2 separate regions of the Homo sapiens genome follow, and region 1 is linked to region 2. Evidence: fine-mapped expression QTL. A gene starts in region 2. The other region holds a variant in brackets. All regions are shown on one strand. Distances are from middle to middle.

What was found. PIP is the estimated chance that this variant, and not a neighbour inherited with it, causes the effect. A credible set is the group of variants that fine-mapping cannot tell apart.
Region 1: its variant is the best candidate, but not a certain one, in a credible set for the expression of MED28 in whole blood (GTEx, PIP 0.65).

The regions. Positions count from the first base shown.
Region 1 is chr4:17,643,756-17,648,143 of GRCh38, forward strand. It overlaps FAM184B (family with sequence similarity 184 member B), which reads right to left. Exons shown (of 18, transcript NM_015688.2): 12 at 3,882-4,036. Among named protein-coding and RNA genes, the nearest start is that of MED28, 31 kb to the left of the region's middle. The variant T/C (reference allele first, on the strand shown) is at 1,870.
Region 2 is chr4:17,611,993-17,616,353 of GRCh38, forward strand. It overlaps MED28 (mediator complex subunit 28), which reads left to right and starts at 2,649. Exons shown (of 4, transcript NM_025205.5): 1 at 2,649-2,821. The coding sequence starts at 2,663. It overlaps MED28-DT (MED28 divergent transcript), which reads right to left and starts at 2,588. Exons shown (of 3, transcript NR_186331.1): 1 at 2,150-2,588; 2 at 1,940-2,046. RefSeq lists enhancers at 1,994-3,193, 2,299-2,588, 2,689-2,798.

The DNA of each region.
Region 1 (4,388 bases), 32 kb after region 2:
TCCTTCAGCAGGACTGGCCACCAATGAATCCTCACCACCCACAGGCACTGGTGGAGACCCTGCTGAGGGCTGGGAGTGGGGGTGGGGAGGCGATGAGGCAGGCAGACAGGTTATCCTCAAAAGACTCCTGATCCAGTCTAGGCAACAAGGACATCTATGAAATGGCATGTCCCCAACAGGACCGGGCGGTAGATCCTAGAGCCAGCTGAGCTGTCTTGACAACAAGTGCTCCAGGATCTCAGAGCCAGAGGGGGCCACTGTGTGCCAGGGAAGGCCCCCAGCATGAGATATGCTGGGCAGCATCTCAGGCAGGAGGAGTGGCACAGGCGAAGGCCAAAGGGAGGGTGCAGATGCCGGGTTTATGAGCCGCAGGGAATATGGCAGGACATACAGGTCATAATCAGTGGTGGAAGCTTTTCAATGCCAAGTTGAAGCATTTGGAGCTTTCTCCAATGGGAACCACCAAAGGCTTTATGAAAAGTGATGCTGGTCATCCTAATACCAAAGCCTGGCAGAGACACAACAAAAAAAGAGAACTTTAGACCAATATCCCTGATGAACATTGATGTAAAAATCCTCAATAAAAGACTGGCAAACCAAATCCAGCAGCACATCAAAAAGCTTATCCACCATGATCAAGTGGGCTTCATCCCTGGGATGCAAGGCTGGTTCAATATACACAAATCAATAAACATAATCCAGCATATAAACAGAACCAACGACAAAAACCACATGATTATCTCAATAGATGCAGAAAAGGCCTTTGACAAAATTCAACAGCCCTTCATGCTAAAAACTCTCAATAAATTAGGTATTGATGAGATGTATCTCAAAATAATAAGAGCTATTTATGACAAACCCACAGCCAATATCATATACTGAATGGGCAAAAACTGGAAGCATTCCCTTTGAAAACTGGGACAAGATAGGGATGCCCTCTCTCACCACTCCTATTCAACATAGTGTTGGAAGTTCTGGCCACGGTAATCAGGCAGGAGAAAGAAGGGGTATTCAATTAGGAAAAGAGGAAGTCAAATTGTCCCTGTTTGCAGACGACATGATTGTATATCTAGAAAACCCCATTGTCTCAGCCCAAAACCTCCTTAAGCTGATAAGCAACTTCAGCAAAGTCTCAGGATACAAAATCAATGTGCAAAAATCACAAGCATTCTTATACACCAATAACAGACAAACAGAGAGCCAAATCATGAGTGAACTCCCATTCACAATTGCTTCAAAGAGAATAAAATACCTAGGAATCCAACTTACAAGGGATGTTTAGGATCTCTTCAAGAACTACAAACCACTGCTCAACAAAATAAAAGAGGATACAAACAAATGGAAGAACATTCCATGCTCATGGATAGGAAGAATCAATATTGTGAAAATGGCTATACTGCCCAAGGTAATTTATAGATTCAATGCCATCCCCATCGAGCTACCAATGACTTTCTTCACAGAATTGGAAAAAACTAAAGTTCATATGGATCCAAAAAAGAGCCTGCGTCGCCAAGTCAATCCTAAGCCAAAAGAACAAAGCTGGAGGCATCATGCTACCTGACTTCAAACTATACTACAAGGCCACAGTAACCAAAACAGCATGGTACTGGTACCAAAACAGAGATATAGACCAATGGAACACAACAGAGCCCTCAGAAATAATACCACATATCTGCAACTATCTGATCTTTGACAAACCTGACAAAAACAAGAAATGGGGAAAGGATCCCCTATTTAATAAATGGTGCTGGGAAAACTGGCTAGCCATATGTAGAAAGCTGAAACTGGATCCCTTCCTTACACCTTATACAAAAATTAATTCAAGATGGATTAAAGACTTAAATGTTAGACCTAAAACCATAAAAACCC[T/C]AGAAGAAAACCTAGGCATTACCATTCAGGACATAGGCATGGGCAAGGACTTCATGTCTAAAACACCAAAAGCAATGGCAACAAAAGCCAAAATTGACAAGTGGGATCTAATTAAACTAAAGAGCTTCTGCACAGCAAAAGAAACTACCATCAGAGTGAACAGGCAACCTACAGAATGGGAGAAAATTTTTGCAATCTACTCATCTGACAAAGGGCTAATATCCAGAATCTACAAAGAACTCAAACAAATTTACAACAAAAAAACAAACAACCCCATCAACAAGTGGGTGAAGGATATGAACAGACACTTCTCAAAAGAAGACATTTATGCAGCCAAAAGACACATGAAAAAAATGCTCATCATCACTGGCCATCAGAGAAATGCAAATCAAAACCACAATGAGATACCATCTCACACCAGTTAGAATGGTGATCATTAAAAAGTCAGGAAACAACAGGTGCTGGAGAGGATGTGGAGAAATAGGAACACTTTGACACTGTTGGTGGGACTGTAAACTGGTTCAACCATTGTGGAAGACAGTGTGGTGATTCCTCAAGGATCTAGAACTAGAAATACCATTTGACCCAGCCATCCCATTACTGGGTATATACCCAAAGGATTATAAATCATGCTGCTATAAAGACACATGCACACGTATGTTTACTGCAACACTATTCACAATAGCAAAGACCTGGAACCAACCCAAGTGTCCAACAATGATAGACTGGATTAAGAAAATGTGGCACATATACACCATGGAATACTATGCAGCCATAAAAAAGGAATGAGTTCATGTCCTTTGTAGGGACATGGATGAAGCTGGAAACCATCATTCTCAGCAAAATATCAGAAGGACAAAAAACCAAACACCACATGTTCTCACTCATAGGTGGGAATTGAACAATGAGAACACTTGGACACAGGAAGGGGGACATCACACACCGGGGACTGTTGTGGGGTGGGGGTAGTGGGGAGGGATAGCATTAGGAGATATACCTAATGTAAATGACGAGTTAATGGGTGCAGCACACCAACATGGCACATGCACACATATGTAACAAACCTGCACATTGTGCACATGTACCCTAGAACTTAAAATATAATAATAATAAAAAAAGAAAAGAAAGTGATGCTGGGCTTTGGGAGAATAGCTGAAGCTGTACGTTATGGACTGGAGGGAGAGAGGGCTGGGCTGTTAGGAGGTGACTGCCACCCAGCTAGACCAGGAATGATGGATGTGCAGGGAAGGGGCTGATGGGCAAAGTCTGAGCAGGAAGAGGAAAGAGAGTTGGCACTGAGCCTGGGTGACAACAAAGCTGCTCCACTTAGGGGAACAGCAAGGTCTAGATGGAGCCTGTCTGGTAAAATGTTCTGAGAAATTCAAAATGTTCTGCAGATCCAGAGGAGTAGCCCAGACCAGCTGCATCGAGGGCCTATCTAGCACCAACACCCTGAGATACCATTGCGTCTGAATTATAAATAACATGCAGCACTTAAAACCTTTTTTTTTTTCTTTTCGAAGACAAGACCCTGCAGGCCCACCAAGTATCCCACAGGCCTGTGGAGAAGGGTCTTCCCCACTTCGGGCAGGGGGGAGGGGAATGACCAAGTACCCAGAGCCCATCCCTTTTTTTTTTTTTTTTTTGAGACAGGGTCTTGCTATGTTGCCCAGGCTAGAGTACTGTGGCACAATCATAGCTCACCACAGCCTGGAACTCCTGGTCAAGTGATCCTCCTGCCTCAGACTCCCGAGCCAGTATTACAGGCATATGCCACCACGCCCAGCTAATTTTCAATTTTTTTTTGTAGAGATATAGTCTTGCTATGTTGCCCTGGCTGGTCTTGAAATCCTGGCCTCAAGTGGTTCTCTGGCTTTGGCCTCCCAAAGTGCTAGATTCCAAGTGTGAGCCACTGCACTCAGCCTCAGAGCCCATCCTTTATGGGGCTTCTTACTGCGGCCCTGATGCTGCTCTGGGAGGGGTATTGCTGGTGCAAGGGCGGGGGCACTGACCTCTGTGGCGATTATGTGATCCTTGCTGTCTCCTGGACACTGGCTGCTGGCTTGCTGTCTGCCCAGAGCCCTCAGCTCGGCCTGCAGTGCCTCCAAGTCCTTCTGGTGCCCAGAACAGGCAGCTTGCTGCTCCGACAGCTCCTGTCTGAGCGACTCTGGAAAAGGGAGAGCAGCAGTGAGTTAGGCGTTGGGTCTAGGCTGAAGCCTGTGTCATGGGGACAACAGTCTCTGGGGTGGGGTTGGATGACGTGGGTGGCTGCTGAAGGCTTGTGGTGGGTTAGGTTCCCCAAACCTTTTCCAAGGTAACAGTAACAACAGGGCCATGTGTGAAAACTGTTCTCATTTAAGTCCCACCACCAACTTTTCTGGTATGAATTATCCCCCACCCCCGCTTCATTTTAGGATGAGGGACCTGAGCATCAGAGAGGGTGAGCACAATGCCCAAAGCCACACAGCTATTAAATGGTGGAGTTGAGATGCAAAATTTCAAGTGGTTCTTCACTCTGA
Region 2 (4,361 bases):
GTGGCATGATCTCGGCTCACTGCAAGCTCTGCCTCCTGGGTTCACCCCATTCTCCGGCCTCAGCCTCCCAAGTAACTGGGACTACAGGCGCCCGCCACAACGCCTGGCTAATTTTTTGTATTTTTAGTAGAGATGGGGTTTCACCATGTTAGCCAGGATGGTCTTGATCTCCTGACCTTGTGATCCGGCTGCCTCGGCCTCCCAAAGTGCTGGGATTACAGGCATGAGCCACTGCCTCCAGCCTAAAATTCTCAGTTTTAACTTATCAGATAAATATTAGCAGACTTAACCCACATAAACAAAAACTTTGGGATCCTCAATAATTTTTAGGAGTGTAAAGGGGTCTTGAGACCAAAACTGTCTGAAAACTGCTGGAGTAGGCTTGTTTCCTCCTGGCGGTCTCTTCTGGTTCTTTCAGTCATCACATATTTATTATATCTATTATGCCAGGCACCATTCTAGATTCTGGGGATACAGGTGAATAAGATGGGCAGGCTCTGATGCACGGAACTTATTTTCTAGTTGGCATGTGTATGACAGAGAGAGAAGGAGGAGGAGGGCAGGTGATTCAGTTATGAAAAAATGAACAAGATAATTTCAGATTACATAAATGTTGTGAAGAAAATTAAACAGGGGAAAGTACTTAGGAGTGGGGATCTAAGTGAAACTGAGGCTGGGAAGATGACTTGATCCGAGCCTGGTTGGCAAAGGGAAGCTCCTGCTTTTTCTCTGAACATTTCTGCCCTGGCTCACTCCTCTGGCAATGAGCTTCCTGTGGTTCCTTAAACATCCCAGGCAGGCTGCTTCTTCAGGGATCCTTCGGTGTAGAAAGCACTCCTAGTTAAATTTTCATGCCAGTCACTACAGTCCAGATCTCCTTGGAGAGGCCTCCTCCAATCACCTATCTCAAAGAACACCCCTCTCACTAGCCATCCCCTTACTGGGTTTCATTTTCCTTCCCAGCTCTTCTCTCTGCACAATATTGCTATGTATTTATGTGCTTGTCTGTCTCCTTCCAGAGATTTGGGATGATTGCTATAACCTCCAGATCATTAAATAGTGCCTGGGAAGTGGAGCGCTCAGTAAGTGTGCTGGGTAATAACTGTAAAATCAGATATAATGAAAAAAAGTTATTTGGTTTTAAAGAGATAAATAAGAAGGTTGGGCACGGTGGCTCACGCCTGTAATCCTAGCACTTTGGAAGACCGAGGCGGGCGGATTGTCTGAGCTCAGGAGTTCGAGACCAGCCTGGGCAACAAGGTGAAACCCCGGCGCTACTAAAATACAGAAAAACTAGCCGAGCGGCGGGCGCCTGTAGTCCCAGCTACTCGGAAGGCTGAGGCAGGAGAATTGCTTGAACCCAGGAGGCGGAGGTTTCAGTGAGCCGAGATCGCGCCACTGCATTCCAGCCTGGGCGACAGAGCGAGACTCCGTCACCAAAAAAAAAGAGAGAGATAAGCAAATGTTAAAAGCAGGTTACTACAAGATTAGCAGCCTAGTGCCGGGCGCGGTGGCTCACGCCTGTAATCTCAGCACTTTGGGAGGCCGAGTCGGGCGGATCACGAGGTTAGGAGATCGAGACCATCCTGGCTAACACGGTGAAACCCCATCTCTACCAAATATACAAAAAATTAGCTGGGCGTGGTGGCGGGCGCCTGTAGTCCCAGCTACTCGGGATGCTGAGGCAGGAGAATGGCGTGAACCCGGGAGGCGGAGCTTGCAGTGAGCCAAGATCGCGCCACTGCACTCCAGCCTGGGCGACAAAGCGAGACTCTGTCTCAAAAAAAAAAAATTAGCAGCCTGGCGCCTTGGCTCATTACTGTATTCCCAACACTTTGGGAGGCCGCGGCGGTAGAATCACTTGAGCTCAGTAAAACACCTGACTCAACTAAAAAAAAAAAAAAAAAAAAAAAAAAAAGCCCGTCGCGACTGCACGCACCTGTGGTCCTAGCTACTTGGGTGGCTGAAGTAGGGGGATTGTTTGAGCCCGGGAGGTCGAGCCCTGATCATGACACTGCACTCCGGCCAGGGCGACAGAACGAGACCCTGAGAAAAAAGAAAAGAAAGAAAAAAAAAGATTAGCATAGTGACTTTCTCTTTGATGTAACCATAAATATTTAAAGACATCAGTGCCGGGCACATTGGGAACCTCAACAAAGTTGTTTCCGTTATCCATCTCCGACCAGAATTCAGGAAGAACTTTGCCTGTCTTGTTCCCGCTATAACCAATGACTCAACAAATGTTTGTGGAGTGAGTGGGTGACCCTCTCCTTTTACCAACGGTAAACAGCCCGCGGAAAGAAAAAGTGACTTAGCCAAAGTCTCTCCAGGCATTTGGGGCAGAGTCGGGACTAGCATAGTAGTATCCTGACTCTCGCAGGAGGGCTCGCTCCACTGTAGTTATTAATTCTCCTCTCCACACAACCAGGTCTAATCCGGCCAAAGTCTTCAATTCTTAAGCTAAGAAAAAAGGAAAATACATGTAAACTCTGTTTTGCGATAGACAAGAAAACAGAAGAATTAAAAATCCTCCTTCCGGGGTGCACCAGAATCCTCCCATCGCTCGGTCCTGTCACGTGACCACGCCTACTACACCAGCCACGTGAGCTTCTGAGCCGGCTTCCGCGCAGGCGCAGTGGATCTCTCTTGCGCCATTCCAAACATGGCGGCTCCACTAGGGGGTATGTTTTCTGGGCAGCCACCCGGTCCCCCTCAGGCCCCGCCGGGCCTTCCGGGCCAAGCTTCGCTTCTTCAGGCAGCTCCAGGCGCTCCTAGACCTTCCAGCAGTACTTTGGTGGACGAGTTGGAGTCATCTTTCGAGGTAATATAAGACATGGGCGTCTTTGTCCCTAGCCTTCCCTTTTTTCTGAAACGTGAACTGCGCGTACGCGTATCTCCTCCAGGGATCCGAGCAACTAATTCACAAATGGGGAAACTGAGGCTTAAAGTAAGTCACTTGCTTTAGGCTTCCCCGTGGCCCGTATTCAATTCAGGTCTGCTGGCGGGGGCGCGTAAACTCGACGTTTGTGGAAACGTGAACCCGAAGTTTGCCTAAACCCCAAACTTGGAACCCTTCCAGATTCCCAGCCGGTCCTTAGTCTCATCCCCGAGCACCGTTTCTTGCATCCCTGCATGTTTAGTAAGAGGCTCAAGCCTTTTCGGAGCTGAGAGTTTCACTGCTGTATCCTGTATCCTTTCCGCTGGGCTTCACCTTTAAACGATCCTAAAGGGACTCTTAAGAGCGGAAATTGACTTAAGTTACCAGGCGCAGCTTGGTACTAAGAGCTGAGGAAGGAGGAATGCTGGAGGTTAGGGAGGGAGGGAGGCACAGGTGACCCAATCTCTCAGTTTTGCCCAAGGAGTTTACCTTGTAGCAAGAAAGGTGAACTGTATATTGAGGGAAGATAGAGAGGTGAAAATAAGTGCTCTGGTGATTTCCAGTAGTCTTTAAAGTGGAAGATGAGCTATTCCTGTGTAGTAATAAAGTAATGTACGTTCAAATTGGAGTTAACTTTTCCACATTTTAAATCCCAGTTTTGCCGGGCGCGGTGGCTCACGCCTGTAATCCCAGCACTTTGGGAGGCCGAGGCTGGCGGATCATGAGGTCAGGAGTTCGAGACCAGCCTGACCAACATGGTGAAACCCTGACTCTACTAAAAATACAAAAATTAGCCAGGCGTGGTGGCGTGCGCCTGTAATCCCAGGTACTCGAGAGGCTGAGGCAGGAGAATCGCTTGAACCTGGGATGCGGAGGTTGCAGTGAGCGGAGACCGCGCCATTGCACTCCAGCGTGGGTGACAAGAGCTCGACTCCGTCTCAAAAAAGTAAAATAAAATATAAATAAATAAAAATCCCAACTTTGTGACTTTTGTATTGTATCTAATAGCACAGTGGTAAATGAATATAATTTGCAAGCGATTATTCAGACTGCATGGACAAAATGCTTTTACCACACGGATGTACAAAGATTTAGAAATAAATGATTTGAGATGGAGTCTCACTCTCTCGCCCAGGCTGGAGTACAGTGGCGCAATTTCGGCTTACTGCAACCTCCGCCTCCCGGGTTCAAGCGATTTTCCTGCCTCAGCCTCCCGAGTTGCTGGGATTACAGGCACCTGCCACCATGCTATTTTTTTTATTTTTTAGTAGAGACAGGGCTTCACTATCTTGGCCAGGCTGGTCTCGAACTCCTGACCTCGTGATCCACCCGCCTCGGCCTCCCAAAGTGCTGGGATTACAGGCGTGAGCCACTGCGCCTAGCCAGAAATAAATGATTTAAAGGACAGACCGTTTAGGAGGAGGAGGAGGAGACACCTTTGAGGTGGTGCTAAGTGGTAAAGGAAGGGGCTGGTGAACTTTAG